Homo sapiens: one gene and its partners. The protein of the gene in region 1 interacts with the protein of each later gene in a pairwise test. Each region holds a gene or a part of one and is shown on either strand. Other genes may lie near its edges.

Evidence for each region. Proteins that work in one complex are often made in the same cells at the same time.
Region 2: the proteins of AP1M1 (region 1) and NKAP interact in binary tests that used the Homo sapiens proteins (3 or more experiments, as listed by UniProt).
Region 3: the proteins of AP1M1 (region 1) and CEP57L1 interact in binary tests that used the Homo sapiens proteins (3 or more experiments, as listed by UniProt).
Region 4: the proteins of AP1M1 (region 1) and ARNT2 interact in binary tests that used the Homo sapiens proteins (3 or more experiments, as listed by UniProt).

What each region holds. Positions count from the first base shown.
Region 1 is NC_000019.10:16,210,434-16,216,009, forward strand, and holds part of AP1M1 (AP-1 complex subunit mu-1), read left to right. Parts: intron 1-5,576. UniProt on the Homo sapiens protein: Subunit of clathrin-associated adaptor protein complex 1 that plays a role in protein sorting in the trans-Golgi network (TGN) and endosomes.
Region 2 is NC_000023.11:119,920,172-119,923,461, forward strand, and holds the end of NKAP (NF-kappa-B-activating protein), read right to left. Parts: 3' UTR 501-3,290; downstream 1-500. Other genes in the region: AKAP14 (A-kinase anchor protein 14), read left to right, coding at 337-436. UniProt on the Homo sapiens protein: Acts as a transcriptional repressor. Plays a role as a transcriptional corepressor of the Notch-mediated signaling required for T-cell development. Also involved in the TNF and IL-1 induced NF-kappa-B activation.
Region 3 is NC_000006.12:109,144,007-109,147,506, reverse strand, and holds part of CEP57L1 (centrosomal protein CEP57L1), read right to left. Parts: intron 2,289-3,500; 5' UTR 2,286-2,288; coding exon 2,126-2,285; intron 750-2,125; coding exon 570-749; intron 1-569. UniProt on the Homo sapiens protein: Centrosomal protein which may be required for microtubule attachment to centrosomes.
Region 4 is NC_000015.10:80,592,882-80,596,381, reverse strand, and holds part of ARNT2 (aryl hydrocarbon receptor nuclear translocator 2), read right to left. Parts: intron 2,783-3,500; coding exon 2,684-2,782; 3' UTR 1-2,683. UniProt on the Homo sapiens protein: Transcription factor that plays a role in the development of the hypothalamo-pituitary axis, postnatal brain growth, and visual and renal function. Specifically recognizes the xenobiotic response element (XRE).

The DNA of each region.
Region 1 (5,576 bases):
ATTGCTGTTTTGCATTCTCGCCAGCAACAGATGAGGGTTGTGATGACCCCACATCCTTTGTCAGTAGTTTTATTTTTGTCATCCTAATAGGTATGTAGTAGTATGTCAGCACAGTTTTGTGTTTTGTTTTTGTTTTTGTTTTTGAGACACAGTCTCGCTCTTGTCGCCCAGGCTGGAGTGCAATGGCACTATCTCCATTCACTGCAACCTCTGCCTCCCAGGCTTAAGCGATTCTCCTGCCTCAGCCTCCCGAGTAGCTGGGATTACAGGCACCCACCACCAGGCCTGGCTCATTTTTGTATTTTTACTAGAGACGGGGTTTCACCATGTTGGCCAGGCTGGTCTCGAACTCCTGACCTCAGATGATCCACCCGCCTCTGCCTCCCAAAGTGCTGGGATTACAGGTGTGAGCTACCACGCCTGGCCTATTCCATTTTCTTAATGGCTAATAATGTTGAGCATTGCTTTACATGTTTCTTTGTCATCTGTATATCCTCTTTGGAGAAATGTCTCTGTGCATCTTTTTAGCATTTTTAAATTGGGTTATTTTCATATAGTTGAGCCTTGATAGTTCTTTGTGTGTTCCAGATAGAAGTCCTCTGTCAGATAGGTGATTTGCAAGTATTTTCCCCCAGTCTGTAGCTTATCTTTTTATTCTCTTAGCAGTGTTTTTTTTTTTTCGACAGAGTCTCACTTTGTAGCCCAGGCTGTAGTACAAGTGGCATGCTTGGCTCAGTGCAACCTCCACCTCCGGGCTTCAAGTGCTTCTCCAGCCTCAGCCTCCCAAGTAGCTGGGATTACAGACGCATGCCACCATGCCCGGCTAATTTTTGTATTTTTAGTCGAGACAGGGTTTCACTATGTTGGTCAGGGTGGTATCGAACTCCTGACCTCAGGTGATCTGCCTTCCTCGGCCTCCCTAAGTGTTGGGATTACAGGCGTCGGCCACCATGCCCAGCCCCCAATACTATATTGAATAGGAGTGGTGAGAGAGGGCATCTTTGTCTTGTGCCAGTTTTCAGGGGGAACGCTTTCAGCTTTTGCCCATTCAGTATGATGTTGGCTATGGATTTGTCATAGATGGCTCTTATTATTTTAGGTATGTTCCTTCAAAACCTAGTTAGTTGGCTGGGCATGGTAGCTCCCGCTCTACTAAAAATAGGAAAATTAGCCGGGCGTGGTGATGCGCGCCTGTAATCCCAGCTACTCGGGTGGCTGAGGTGGGAGGATCACTTGAGCCCCAGAGGTAGAGGTTGCAGTGAGTCCAGATTGTGCCACCGCACTCCAGCCTGGGCGACAGAGCAAGACCCTGTTTCAAAAAAAAACAAAAAACAAAACCAAAAAACTCCAGTTTGTTGAGAGTTTTTAACATGAAGAGATGTTGAATTTTATCAAAAGCCTTTTCTGCACCTATTGAGATGATCATGTAGTTTCTGTCTTTAGTTCTATTTATGTGATGAATCATGTTTATTGATTTGCATGTATTGAACCAACCTTGCATCCCAGGGATAAAAGCCTTCTTGATTGTGGCGGATTAGCTTTTTGATGTACTGCTGGATTCAGTTTACTAGTATTTTGTTGAGGATTTTTGCATCAATGTTCATCAAGGATATTGGCCTGAAGTTTTCTTTTTTTGTTGTATCTCTGCCAGGTTTTGGTATCAGGATGATGCTGGCCTCATAGAATGAGTAGGGGAGGAGTCCCTCCTCCTCCGTTTTTTTGGAATCATTTCAGTAGGAATGGTACCAGCTCTTCTTTGTACGTCTGATAGAATTCAGCTGTGAGTCCGTCTGGTCCAGGTTTTTTTTGGTTGTTAGGCTATTTATTACTGATGCAATTTTGGAGCTCATTATTGGTCTGTTCAGGGATTCAGTTTCTCCCTGGTTCCATCTTGGAAGGGTATATGTGTCCGGGAGATTATCCATTTCTTCTAGATTTTCTAGTTAGTGTGCATAGAAGTGTTAATAATAGTCTCTAAGGGTTATTTGTAGTTCTGTGGGGTCAATGGTAATATCCCCTTTGTCATTTCTAATTGTGTTTATTTGGGTTTTCTCTCTTTTCTTAATAGTCTAGCTAGCAGCCTATCTATCTTATTCATTCTTTTAAAACACCAGCTCCTGGCTTACTTGATGTTTTGAATGGTGTTTTTGTGTCTCAGTCTTCTAGAGTTCAGCTGTGACTTTGGTTATTTCTTGTCTTCTGCTAGCTTTGGAGTTGGAGGCTTTTGCTTCGTGAGTTCTTTTAGTTGTGATGTTAGGTTGTTAATTTGAGATCTTTCTAACTTTTTGATGTGGGCATGTAGTGCTGTAAATTTCTCTTAACACTGCCCTAGCCGTGTCCCAGAGATTCTGGTCTGTTGTATCTTTGTTCTTATTTGTTTCAAATAATTTCTTGACTTCTGCCTTAATTTCATTATTTACCCAAAAGTAATTTGGGAGCAGGTTGTTTAATTTCCATGTAATTGTATGGGTTTGAGTGATTTTCTTAGTTTTGAATTCTATTTTTATTGATTTGTGGTCTGAGAGAGTGGCTGGTATGCTTTTGGTTCTTTTGCATCTGCTGAGGATTATTTTATGTCCAATTGTGTGGTGGTTTTTAGAGTATGTACCATGTACAGATGAGATATATTCTCTCGTTTTTGGGTGGAGAGTTCTGTAGATATCTATCAGGTCCAGTTGATCCAGTGCTGAGTTAAGGTCCTGGATATCTTTGATAATTTTCTGCCCCAGTGATCTGTCTAATACTGTCAGTGGGGTGTTGAAATCTCCCACTGTTATTGTGTGGGAGTCTAAGTCTCTTTGTAGGTCTCTAAGAACTTGCTTTATGAATCTGAGTGCTGCTGTTGGCTGCATATTTATTTAGGTTAGTTAGATCTTGTTGAATTGAATACCTTACCATTATGCAATGCACTTCTTTGTCTTTTTTTGATCTTTGTTGGCTTAAAGTCTGTTTTGTCTGAAATTAAGATTGCAACTCTGCTTTTGTCTGTTTTCTATTTGCTTGGTAGATTTTTCTCCATTTCTTCATTTTGAGTCTGTGGGTGTTATTGCATCTGAGATGGGTCTTTTTTTTTTCTTTTGAGACAGAGTCTTGCTGTGTTGCCCAGGCTGGAGTGCAGTGGCGCAATCTCGGCTCACTGCAACCTCTGTCCCCCAGGTTCAAGCAATTCTCCTGCCTCAGCCTCCCAAATAGTTGGGATTACAGGCACGCGCCACCACGCCTGGCGGTTTTCTATTTTTAGTAGAGACGAGGTTTCACCATGTTGGCCAGGCTGGTCTCGAACTCCTGACCTCAAGTGATCCACTCGCCTCGGCCTCCCAAAGTGCTGGGATATTACAGGCATGAGCCACTGCACCCAGCCAAGAATGGTGTCTTAAAGGGAGCATATCATTTGGTCTTATTTCTTTATCCAGCTCTTGCCACTCTATGCCTTTTAATTGGGGCATTTAGCCCATTTACATTCAAGGTTAGTATTGATATGCATGTATTTGATCCTGTCATTGTGTTGTTAGCTGTTTATTATGCTGACTTGTTTGTGTGGTTGCTTTATAGTGTTACTTGTCTGTGTACTTAAATGTGTTTTTGTAGTGGCTAGTAATGGCCTTTTCTTTCCTTTTTCTTTTTTTTTTTTTTGAGACAAAGTCTCACTGGGTAGCCCAGGCTGGAGTGCCATGGCGTGATCTTGGCTCACTGCAACCTCTGCCTCCCAGGTTCAAGTGATTCTCCTGCCTCAGCCTCCCGAGTAGCTGGGACTACAGGCGTATGCCACCATGCCCAGCTAATTTTTTTTTGGTATTTTTAGTAGAGACAGAGTTTCACCATGTTAGCCAGGATGGTCTCGATCTCCTGACCTGACCTCGTGATCCACCTGCCTTGGCCTCCCAAAGTGCTGGGATTACAGGCGTGAGCCACTGCACCCGGCCTTTTTTTTTTTTTGAGATGGAGTCTTGCCCTGTCACCCAGGCTGGAGTGCAATGGCATGATCTCTGCTCACTGCAACCTCTGCCTCCCTGGCTCAAGCAATTCTCCTGCCTTAGCCTCCCGAGTAGCTGGGATTACAGGTACCCACCACCATGACCGGCTAATTTTTGTATTTTTAGTAGATATGGAGTTACACCATGTTGGCCAGACTGGTGTCGAACTCCACACCTCAGGTGATTCGCCTGCCTCAGCCTCCCAAAGTGCTGGGATTACAGGCATGAGCCACCACACCCGGCCTTCTTTTCATATTTAGTACTTCTTTCAGGAGCTCTTGTACAGCAGGTCTGCTGGTAAACAAATTCCCTCAGCATTTGCTTGTCTGAAAGGATCTTTTTTATTCTTCTTTTTTTTTGAGACAGGGTCTCATTCTGTTGCTCAGGCTGGAGTGCAGTGGCATGATCATGGCTCACTGCAACCTCTACCTCCCTGGCACAAGCTATTCTCTGGCCTCAGCCTACCAATTGGCTGGGACTATAGGCAGGTACCACCACACCCGGCTAATGTATATGTTTTTGGTAGAGATGGGGTTTTGCCATGTTTCCCAGGCTAGTCTCAGACTCCTGGATTCAGGCACTCCACCCACCTCGGCCTCCTAAAGTGCTGGGATTACAGGTTGAGCCACCACACCCAAGTTGAAAACGATCTCATTTCTCCTTTGCTGATGAAGCTTAGGTTGGCCAGATGTGAAATTCTGGATTGGAATTTCTTTAAAAATGTTTAATATATTGGCCAGGAGTGGTGGCTTACACCTGTAATCCCAGCACTTTGGGAGGCTAAGGCGGGGGCGGGGGGGGGGGAGAGGGGGGAGGGGGGAGGGGAGGGGATCACCTGAGGTCAGGAATTCAAGACCAGCCTGGCCAACATGGTGAAACCTGGTCTCTACTGAAAATATAAAAATTAGCAGCACGTGGTGGTGCATGCCTGTAGTCCCAGCTGCTTGGGAGGCTGAGGCAGGAGAATTGCTTGAACCTGGGAGGCGGAGGTTGCAGTGACCTGCTGAGATCCCACCACTGCACTCCAGCCTGGGCCACAGAATGAGATTCCATCTCAAAAAAAAAAAAAAAAAAAAAAAAAAAAAGAATGTTTAATATAGGCCTCCAATCTCTTCTGGCTTGTAGGGTTTCTGCTGAGAGGCCCACTGCTAGTCTGATGGGCTTCCCTTTGTAGGTGACCTGCTATGTCTCTCTAGCTTCTTTCATTTTGACCCTGGACAATCTGATGATTATGTGTTTTGGGGATGATCTTGTGAAGTATTTTGCAGGGGTTCTCTGCATTCCCTGATTTTGAATATTGGCCTCTCTAGCTAGACTGGGGAAGTTCTCATGGATAGTATCCTGAAATACGTTTTCCAAGTTGCTTCCATTTTCCCCATCTCTTTCAGGGACACCAATGAGTTGTAGATTTGCTCTCTTTTTTAATCCCATATTTCTTGGAGGCTTTGTTCATTCCTTTTCGTTATTTTTTCTCTATTCTCATCTGACTGTCTTATTTCAGAAAGCCAGTCTTCAAGCTCTGAGATTCTTTCCTCAGCTTGGTCTGTACTACTGTTAATACTTGTGATTACATTATTAAATTCTTATACTGTGTTTTTCAGC
Region 2 (3,290 bases), on another chromosome or scaffold:
TTGCTGGAGTGGGGTGGAGGCAAAGTGGGTCATGTCTATCGTTTCTAAGGAAAACTTCAATATCACATAAAATTAACTCATGTATAATAATCCCTTTTATAGCAGCTCTCTTAAAGTATCTTTACATATAAGCTCATAAATCCTTTCATTGACTGGGCTTAAGAAACAGTAAAGGATAGACATAGAGAACCTTAGCTACCTCCCCTCCCCCGCCAATAAAAGAGGCTTCTTGCTTACTAGGAATATAAAAGAGTAAATAGGGAATCCCCTTTGTTTGATTTTAAAAGCTTTTGATTTAAAAATACTTTAAAAGTGTTTGTTTTTCTTCCTTTGTAGACCAGGAATGGTTCGCTTTCGAGAAAACTGGCAGAAGAATCTTACTGATGCCAAATATAGTTTCATGGAGTCATTCCCCTTCTTATTCAATCGTGTCTGATACTTACAGGATGTCTTAGGATTGTTTTTCTCATCAGGATACATTAAAAATACAATACAGCACGTCAAACCACAGAATATTTATTGAGTAATAAACTTGTGGCACACAATCCAGCTGTATTTTTTTGCATTCATTCATTTTCCATTCTGCAACCTCCATCACATTAGCAGAGTAACCAGTAAGTTGTTTTCTATTTTCTAAAGTATTTTTTTCTATCACTATATGTATCACTTCTGAGTCTTACAGGTATAGAGCTGAGTTTAGAGAGTTGCTAAAATTCACCTATTGGACCAAACTAAGGTTGGTACTTGGCTGTTTGTTCCCCATCTGAGCCTAAGTCTCCAGCTCAGACACATCTCTTTATGGGCACAACTGGGAACAACAAAATGGCAACAGTTCTACAGCTCATAATATAACCAGTCTGAAGGGTTCCCCTACTCACAGACCCCTTCATTTACTGGGAGTTAAGCCTCACTGCTAAATAATATATTTTGAAACTGGAAAACTGGGCATGCTGCCTTCCACAATACACCACTATACTCATGATTGCAGGAGGGTGGCTTGGGGACTAGGGGCAATGACACGGGAAGGATACAATCATTGCCCTTACTTATCTTTGATCTTCTTCCCATCCTCACACTGAATAATCACTTGTTCCTACCTTCCCTGTGAACCTCTCTTGCCTGGCTGCAAAATTTTAAGACACCAAAGACAAAATTACATTATGCTCTGAGTGATTACTTACAAGTACATCAGAATATTTACTTACATAGAAAAGCACTGGAAAGGAGGAACACAAAATATGAAAGACAATTGATATGGTACTGAAATTTTTCTTTTTTAACTGTTAGATATTTGTGCAATAAATAAAAAAGGAGGGAAAACCACATCAGAGCAATAGGCAAGGAGGTGGCAAACTAGATAAGTCTCCTTGGAGAACAAAAAATATATTTAAAATACAATAGCCCTACTACAACTGATTTATGGCTCAGGTGACTAAACACAATTTGAAGCAGTAACAACACTCATAAGCTGAAAATAAAATACTTTTAGCCCTTTTATTCTTCTTGCCTCTTTCCCAAAGAATATGCCAATGAAGCTGTTCTTGATGTCACAATATTCATATATCGCAGAATTTCTGCATTTAAACTACCTTGCCTACTGAAAATAAGATAATCATTTCATCTCTAGGAACCAGTAACCAAAAAAAAAATGTCCTTAGAGAATACATTTTTATTTGTTTGTTTATTTAGAGACGGAGTCTCATTCTGTCTCCCAGGCCGGAGTGCAGTGGCTTGATCTCGGCTCACTGCAACCTCCACCTCCCAGGTTCAAGCAATTCTCCTGCCTCAGCCTCCCGAGTAGCTGGGACTACAGGCACGTGCCACCATGCCCGGCTACATTTTTTGTATTTTTAGTAGAGATGGGGTTTCACCATGTTAGCCAGGATGGTCTTGATCTCCTGACCTCATGGTCCGCCCACCTCGGCCTCCCAAAGTGCTGGGATTATAGGTGTGAGCCACCACGCCCAGCTGAGAATAAAATTTTTAAGTGGGTATTACAAAATTCAGGTTTTATTATTCAGGGAAGTAGATGGATTGAGACTCAAAACTTTGGGAACTAGTTTCTTTTAACTTTTGAAAACTACAGATTTATTAGGCTAGGCAGCAACTACAATTAGGTATAAATAAACAGAAATCATTTCAAATTCAGGGGTCATTAATGCTGCTACATGCTGACTCTTATTTTCAGTAGTTGCGGGTTAAAAGTAGACATTTCCTGGAACATATATTTAATAGTATTTAAGACTGTTAATACTGTTTAATTATAAAACTTTGGGCCGGGTGTGGTGGCTCACGCCTATAATCCTAGCACTTTGGGAGGCCGAGGCGGGCGGATTGTTTGAGGTCTGGAGTTTGAGACCAGCCTGGGCAATAAGGTGAAACCTTGTCTCTACTAACTATACAAAAATTAGCTGGGCATGGTGGTGCACACTGGTAGTCCCAGCTGCTCGGGAGGCTGAGGTGGAGGATTGCTTGAGCCCAGGAGGTGGAGGTTGCAGTGAGCCGAGATTGCACCACTGAACTCTAGCCTGGGTGACAGAGGGAGACCCTGTCTCAAAAATAATAATAAAAAAACTTTTGCTCTATACTTTGAAATATGACTGCCTTATTTAAACACTTTTGAAAAACAACCACTTAAAAATATAAGGCAAGCGGGCATTTTACAATAGTATAATCAGAATGTCCTTATCACTCAGGTAATTTAAATTTATCATAGGCATGTAATAATAATGCAGATCAAATAACCTTAACAAAAACGGCCAGGCACGGTTGCTCACACCTGTAATCCCAGCATTTCAGGAGGCTGAGGCGGGCAGATCACTTGAGGTCAGGAGTTCGAGACCAGCCTGGCCAAGATGGCGAAACCCCATCTCTATTGAAAATACAAAAATTAGCCAGTTGTGGTGGTGAGTGCCTGTAATCCCAGCTACTTGGGAGGCTGAGGTGGGAGGATCACTTGAACCCAGGAGGCAGAGGTTACAGTGAGCCGAGATCACACCACTGGGCTCCAGCCTGAGTGACAGAGTGAGACTCTATCTCAAAAAACAAAAAACAGAAAACCAACCTTAATGAAAACAGCCAAAACTTCCTGGGTTCCCTCCCCCATTCACTCTTCTGACCTAATTAAAATTGAACGAAATAAACAAAGGAACAAGACCACGATATCATAGTCCCACAATTTTCCATTTCTCCCCAACTTAAAAACAAACAGAAAGGTTTAAGTGTTTAAAATGAAATCTACTTAGTATATGAAAGACAGTTAAAAATATTTAATATCATTTTAGTTTCTC
Region 3 (3,500 bases), on another chromosome or scaffold:
AAAGTCTTAAGTTTTGAAGTGAAATTACTTAAAAGACTTATGTTCTAAATTTCTAAAATTTTTCATAATTTCCACAGAAGCCTCCCCCATTTGCCTATGTCTTCTAATTAACCTTGCTTTCCTCTCATTAAATAAAATTCTTTTGTATTCATTTTTATTGGTTTTACATTGTTTAATTACTAGTGTTGTTCTGTATTTCAAATTCTAAAGTTTAGTGTTAACTGCAAATACAAATAAATAAAATAAAAAATAAATATTCAATTACGGGTTAAATTGGAGTTTGTTGGCTATTCTGAAAATATTCTAATTTTTAAACACAACTTGTCTAAAATCTTAATTTTTCCTTTAATTTCTAGAATTTATGAATTATGATAAGTAAGATATGATAGAGGTAAGTTCAAAACTGTATCTTTTTCTCACAAATATCAAAAGGTCTGAGAACAAAGTCATGAAGTTTGAATATATATAAGAATAAAGATATCTGAGTACATCGGCTTAGACTAGGTTTATTATTTTTGAACTGTAAACTCCAGTAACCCCCGGTTTCTGAGAACTACTGCATTTCTTACCTTTTTTCTGCTTTATCAGCTCCTGGTGTGCCAGATTTCTCTCATTTGTTTCATTCTCTAAGGCCTTCTTATACTGTGCTGCTTCTCTGGAAAGAATGTTCAGGTTATCTTCAGCTTGTGTTCTCTCCAGCTCTAAACGATGAATTTTTTCCTGAAGAGTTTTTAAGGCTAAAATAAGAGCTGTTGAAAAAAAATTTTGTTGATATTTTAAGTGAAAGTTTCTGAACACTTACAATCAAAGTAACATAAGAAAAATAAGCAGTATATTTTTGTTACTGAGCCAGAAAAATGTACAAGTAATGCATATTCTTCAAAAAATGAAAAATAATGACTAACACTTTGAAGAGGCGCACATTTTCTCTCTAATATATCTTGTAAAAACACTATATCTATTATTGTATTTAGTGGTTTCTAAGACTGAGAAAGGTAATAACCACAATTTTAATTTAATAAAATATTTACAAATGAAAGGACTTAAAGACAATGTACAGTCTGGGGAGCATAAGAGTATAAATATGAATAAGAACATTAAAATATAATTTCTACTAATTAACATGGCAATTTAGGTTTAAAGTTATAGGCTTTTTTTCTCAGTTCTTGAGGTATTCCGTTTTAGTCAAATCACACATATTTACTGTTTCTTTGTCCATGATGCAGTATTAAGAACCAGGATAATTATAACCTAATGGTTTACCTGATGTCAGACCTGAAAGATAATAGTATTCTATACTACTGTGACTTATATTCAACTATATTAATATCTTCATGCTTCAGATAAGTTCAGAGTTTTAACTGTCATATAGTTTATATCAAATTAGAAAGATGCTTGCTAGAGATTACCATTTTGTTTTTATAAATGAGATAAATAAATTATATTTATTCCTCTTTACATGATATCTGTAGCTGGCACATTGATTTGCATTATTATTTCTTATAGTTTATTCCACAAAACTAGTTTATTTATTAACAGCAACCATTATTATAGAAGATTTTAAAAGTAGGTGATATCAGCATCTCAGAAAAGAATTTGCACAGCTTAAAATATGCCTGGAGTAATAAAATGTTTTCCTAATTCAATTTTAAGATCCTCCTACATTTCTATTTTAAACGTTAAAATACTAGTATTTTGTAGTTACTCTGATATACTGGCTTCCTAAAATATTTTCAAGAATAATTTTGGATATATGTAATTTCTGAATCTAATTCTTGAATAAGATGCAATTCCATTTAATTCACTAACATTCTAATCATCTAGTTTAGTATTCCAAATCTGACCTTTTATTCTTCAAAGAGTATTTTCCTGTTTTCAAATGATGTTTTTATGATAACTCTGTGATATGTGTCCAGCTGGTTGTATTAATCTTCATTTTATGGCTGAAGAAGCCAAAATAAAAAATGTCAAGTAATTTGTCTAAGTTCATAGAAACTTTTAGCAACAGAATCAAAGTTAGGAGTTTTGTTAAGATTAAATATGCAATCATATTGTATTCCACATAAATATGAAAAGTTTTTTATAGCATGTTTTTACCATTCTTCAAATTTTATATCAGCATTACCTTGGCTATTTGGGCTATGAAGTATCTTAGGAGAGGTAACTTCTAAGTTTGCAGGATGGCAATTCTGAGATGGTTCATTCTGGGTGAATGAGGGAACAAATACTCTTTCTGGAGGTTTATGATAGCTTCCTACTATACTATGCATTAATTCAGAATCCATTATCTGTAGAGAATAAAGGAATGATATAGTATCATGCTTTCCTATTTTAAGGGTAAATGCATTATACAAAAATTCAGGTGAAACTTTAAAAACATAATCATATACTGTGGAGTTGTATCTTTATGAACTTAATTATAAATTCAACTCTAATAGGCTTGGCAATAAAAGAAAGAAAAGTTACTATTTCTTGTGTAAGCAGTACTGACAATTCTGCCTGATTTTCAATAATCATATACCCTGGAGTAAGCATCACATGAGTGATTTGAATTTACTGGTTTCTCAGTTACCCATAAATCCCATATACCTATCATAGTCTGAGCACTTCTCTATAAGCAGTGTGACTCTAGGATTTAAAGAGAAAGTACATATTCTAAAAGATAACTGAGCTTTTAAACACAAACCAACAATATACACTGATTCTCTAATACTGATTGTTGAATTCTAATGTATGGCTTCCTAAGGGATTTTCAAGGGTAATTTTGGATATATGAAATATCGGAATTTAACCTTTGAATAAGACACACCTCTGCTTAATGTATTAGCATTTTAATCATCTAGATTAGAAAGTTTCCAAATCTGAAGAATCTAGACTACTTAGTTTTGTTAGTCTGGTTTTTATTTTGTTGTTGTTTTTGTTTTGGTAAGAGAGCCCTTTTAACCATTTAAGCAGGTAATTTTTGGTCTAAAATTTCCAAATAATTTTATTTTCCTTTCTGCAATTTAAATATTTTAGAAATGTATTCTATTTTTTAATAGATTCCAGTCAATGTTAATTAAATTAATTCATAATCACATAAGGTGATAACTGCTTACAAAAAAATAACTCACTGGAAGAATTTTAAGCAAGAAAGCTTGCTTCAAAATGGAAATCCAAGAATTACACTATAACATTAGCCTATTTTGATTTTTGAGAGTTGTACATTTTCCATGATTTCACCACCTCCTCAATTCACAAGGCAAAGGCAGGCACTTCCCAGGATAGTATTTTCTGGAAGGGCAGAAGGCACACTTCACTTCCTAGAATTTTCTACTTTAGCCATTGCCATGATTGGCAATCTCCTAGAACATTCTGATTGGTCTAAATTAGAGGCTATAAAGCCTAAGGTTTGCTAAGATACTTGATGCTTTTTGTTCTTGCAAGGTAACCATATTTTGCTATTGTGATTAGTACCAGCTATCTCAGACACTGCCTGCTCCCCATGGGATACCGCATCT
Region 4 (3,500 bases), on another chromosome or scaffold:
CATGACGGCTTTTACAAATCATAAGCAAAAACTGCAGTCAGACTCTACTCAGATTTCCCGCCTATGCTCCTAGGACAGAGCTGGAAGGGAAGGAGGCTGGGCCTATTTAGTCATAATGCCTCCCCATCAGGTCTAGCTTTCATTCATCCATGAATCCTCACCCAAGGGCCAAGAACTGAGTTCACTGCACCCTGGACCCCTGTTGAGGTAGGAGAAGTAGACGTTGGGAGCAAGGATCCTCTCCTAATTTTGTTGCATCCCCTCAGTGCCCAGCACAGCTCCGGATACAGGGCAGGTTCACAGTCAGCGTGTTCACCTGGGTCTGTGTATGCACCTAAGAAAAGCCTCAACTCTCCTCCAAGAAACAGAAGAGGCAAAACAAACATAAGACCCCCCAAACTTCCAAACTCACAAGCTAAAGGCTATAAAAAGACTGTTTTCATTTCACTGAGAAACACTTCTTTGATCCAAAACCTATTTTTGTGCCTTTTTTGGGGGGAAATAATTATGCCCAAGGCCTGGGGCAAGCTCAAGCCTGCTGGAGGCAGAGGTGGCCCCAAGGGCAGGGCAGGCAGAGAAAGGCCCATTCTGGGGCTGGCCCTGGGAGGATGTGCAGGGTTTCAACCACCTGCCATTTCCCCAGAAGCAAGAAAGCCTCTGAGGTTGGAGTGAACACTGCATGCATCTACAGTGGAGACCCAATCACCATTACAGACAAAAAGCTCTAGAAACTGCAAAGTTGGGGTTAAGTTAGAGTCTAGGAACTGCAGTCATGCACAGCTGGCGACCAGCCAAAGGCATTTTACTGAGCAATGTTTGACTTTTGTAGGTCCCCCAGCAACATTGAGCACATGGATCTCCCTGGCCAGACAGGGCTGGGGTTTAATGTGGAGCTTTCAATGGATCACAGCAAACACTCTCTCCAAACTCCTTCCTGCATGCTGGCCTCACTCCACTCTCAGGTTCCTAGAACCAATGCCACTCTTCTAGGTCCTGCAGAATCCATGGGCAGGGATGCACGGGTTGTTTCTGAGCAAGCAGCATCTGCGAGGGCCTACCTGAAGGACTCTGGGAGGGACACAAGGGCTTTCCCAGAGGGTAGGTCCCTCCATGTGCCCTGCAGCAGCCACGGTACCTTTTCTACCATATGGGAGTCAGTGGGCTGATGGGCTGGTGATAAGAAACAGGGAGGGGGCGTAATGGTCACAAAAGGAAGGAAACACAAGAGGCCGAAGGAGTCCTCACTAGTGTAAGGGGTGTGGGAGAAGGCAGAGGTCCCTGAAAACAGGGGGATGGATTCATAAACTCTCCTCAAATCCAAGAGAAGCACAGCAAGCCAGGGATCATGGGCTCAGAGGTCAGCCAGGCAGAAGATTCTAGAGTCAGCTCTTGTTCTTGTCTTGAGACCACCAGAGAAATTCAAGGCCGGTGGGTGTGTGGCAGAACCAGAACTGGAACCCATGTCTTCTGCCCCTGAGACCTGCACTCTGTGCCTCCCAGAGCTGCTGTTCCTCCAGTCGGGCTGAAGAACGAAGGCTCAGGTGGCCTGGAAGAAAGTGTTTCATGGTGCCCATGTGAGAAGGCCTGGGCGTCCTACCCTGCTATCTACATCTGTAAAGAAGGGCCAGGCCTCTGACCTCAAGGCGTGCTGTCCTGCAGGCTCTGGGCAGGCACAAGGTCCTCCTCTCACCAGTGGGGCAAGGATGAGACATGCTTATGTGGGATCAGGAACACAGCTATTCAGATCCAATTGGGAGGAGGGTGAGTGCTCCCTTGGGGCTCCTGTGGGAGGAAGGAGCTGCTTCCTCTAAGAGGAGGAGCTTGAATCTGCACCAGAGGCTTGGACCAAAGAACTGACCTACCCATGTGAGCATGCCCCTAGCTGTGCCTCCTGGTGACCCTGCCGAAGTGTCAGCCTGTTAGCCCAGCTCCCAGACCCTGGGCCGAGCAACCTCTGGTCATGGCCGGTGGTGCTGAGCTTGGGGACAGGGCCACACATTTTGGCTCTCTACATACTCTGGATTCTATACAATCACGCTGGCCACACATGACAGACACAAGGCACAACACATCCATTAGGACAGCAAGTCCATGTCACACTGCACAAATTACATATGTCCCACGGCACAGTGGATGCACAGACAGACCAGCGGAGCTGAGGGGCAGGCGCCTCTGTGTCTCTGTGCTTCTTGGCTCCAGCTGGCAGAACGAGGGCTGTGCACTCTGCTTGCCCATTTTCCCAGCATTCCCCCAGAGCCCCATGCATCCATCAGAAGTGAAATCAAGAAGAAATCTGCTTTCAGCATCCTGGGCAGGCCTGCTGGTGCTGCTTGGTCACTCTGGGCATTGGCTGAACTTTCATGGGTATAAATTGTCTATCAAGAGATTATTCACAACCAAACTTAAGGACCCACTAGGCTCACCTCCTGAGCACACACAGATAAAATACAATAAATACAACTGATCCCCTAATGTCTGCCAGGGCCCCTGGTCAGTGGCCGAGCAGCCGCGGCTGCAGGGGAGAGTGGAGCAATGATGCGCCTGGGGACACACAGCGGGGGAGATGGCTTCTGGTGGGGGGCCTGCGGCAGGGCAAGCAGGGCGAGGGTGGGCCTCATTCACATGGGCATCGACATCACAGTATGGGTGGCACTGTACAGCAGGAGCCTCACTCTGGCCGCAGCTACTCAGAAAACGGTGGAAACATGCCCAGGTCGGCAAAGTCTTCGATGTTATAGTTGCCAGTCCCCTGGGTTGGATCTCCTGGCATGGGCAGCATGTCCTGCAGAGGAGAGGAAAAGAGAGCCACAGGGGAGTCAGCTCCTCTGTCCGTGCACTGGGCATGTCCCAGGAGCCCAGTCTGCACTCACCCTCATGGCCATCCCTAAAGGGGCAGCCCAGAGGTCCTCCCCAGCCTTCTGCGGGATGCTCTGCAAGGGTCCTCAAATGTCTGAGACCCGGGGAAACTGTTCTCCCCAGGGAGCTGTTGTGACAGCAGGTAAACGGCATTAGGACATGCCCTTTGTCTATCTAAGGTTGAGTCAGGGACCCAGGGTAGACGAGAACCCCACTGGCGGGGAGACCCCAGGCTGGCCCCAAGCAAGGTGCACCTAACAGATAGCAGATGGCCAAAATATAAGAGAAATGCAACGCAGAGTGGAGTGGAAGGAAGATGTATGTGGAGACCTGGCTGGCCTGTCTTCCATGTTTATCTTAGCGCAGGGACGAATCCCTGAATGGTTAGATTTCAGTTTCAACATGTCTTTCCAGTCCTCTGGGCCTCAGATGACCCATCCAGAAAACGGGAATAGCACTATTTTAGTTTCTTACAGCCAATTCCCCAACATGTGTTCTGTTGAATTCTCAGCCCATGTGATACTCTGTGAGAAAAGAATTCTGTGGACAAATAAGTTTGGGAAACAAGGCACACTTTGCCTACCTCCTAGAAATCCAGTCCTTATTGGTGTAATAAAAGCTCTGATACGTCCTGCAATAAAGAA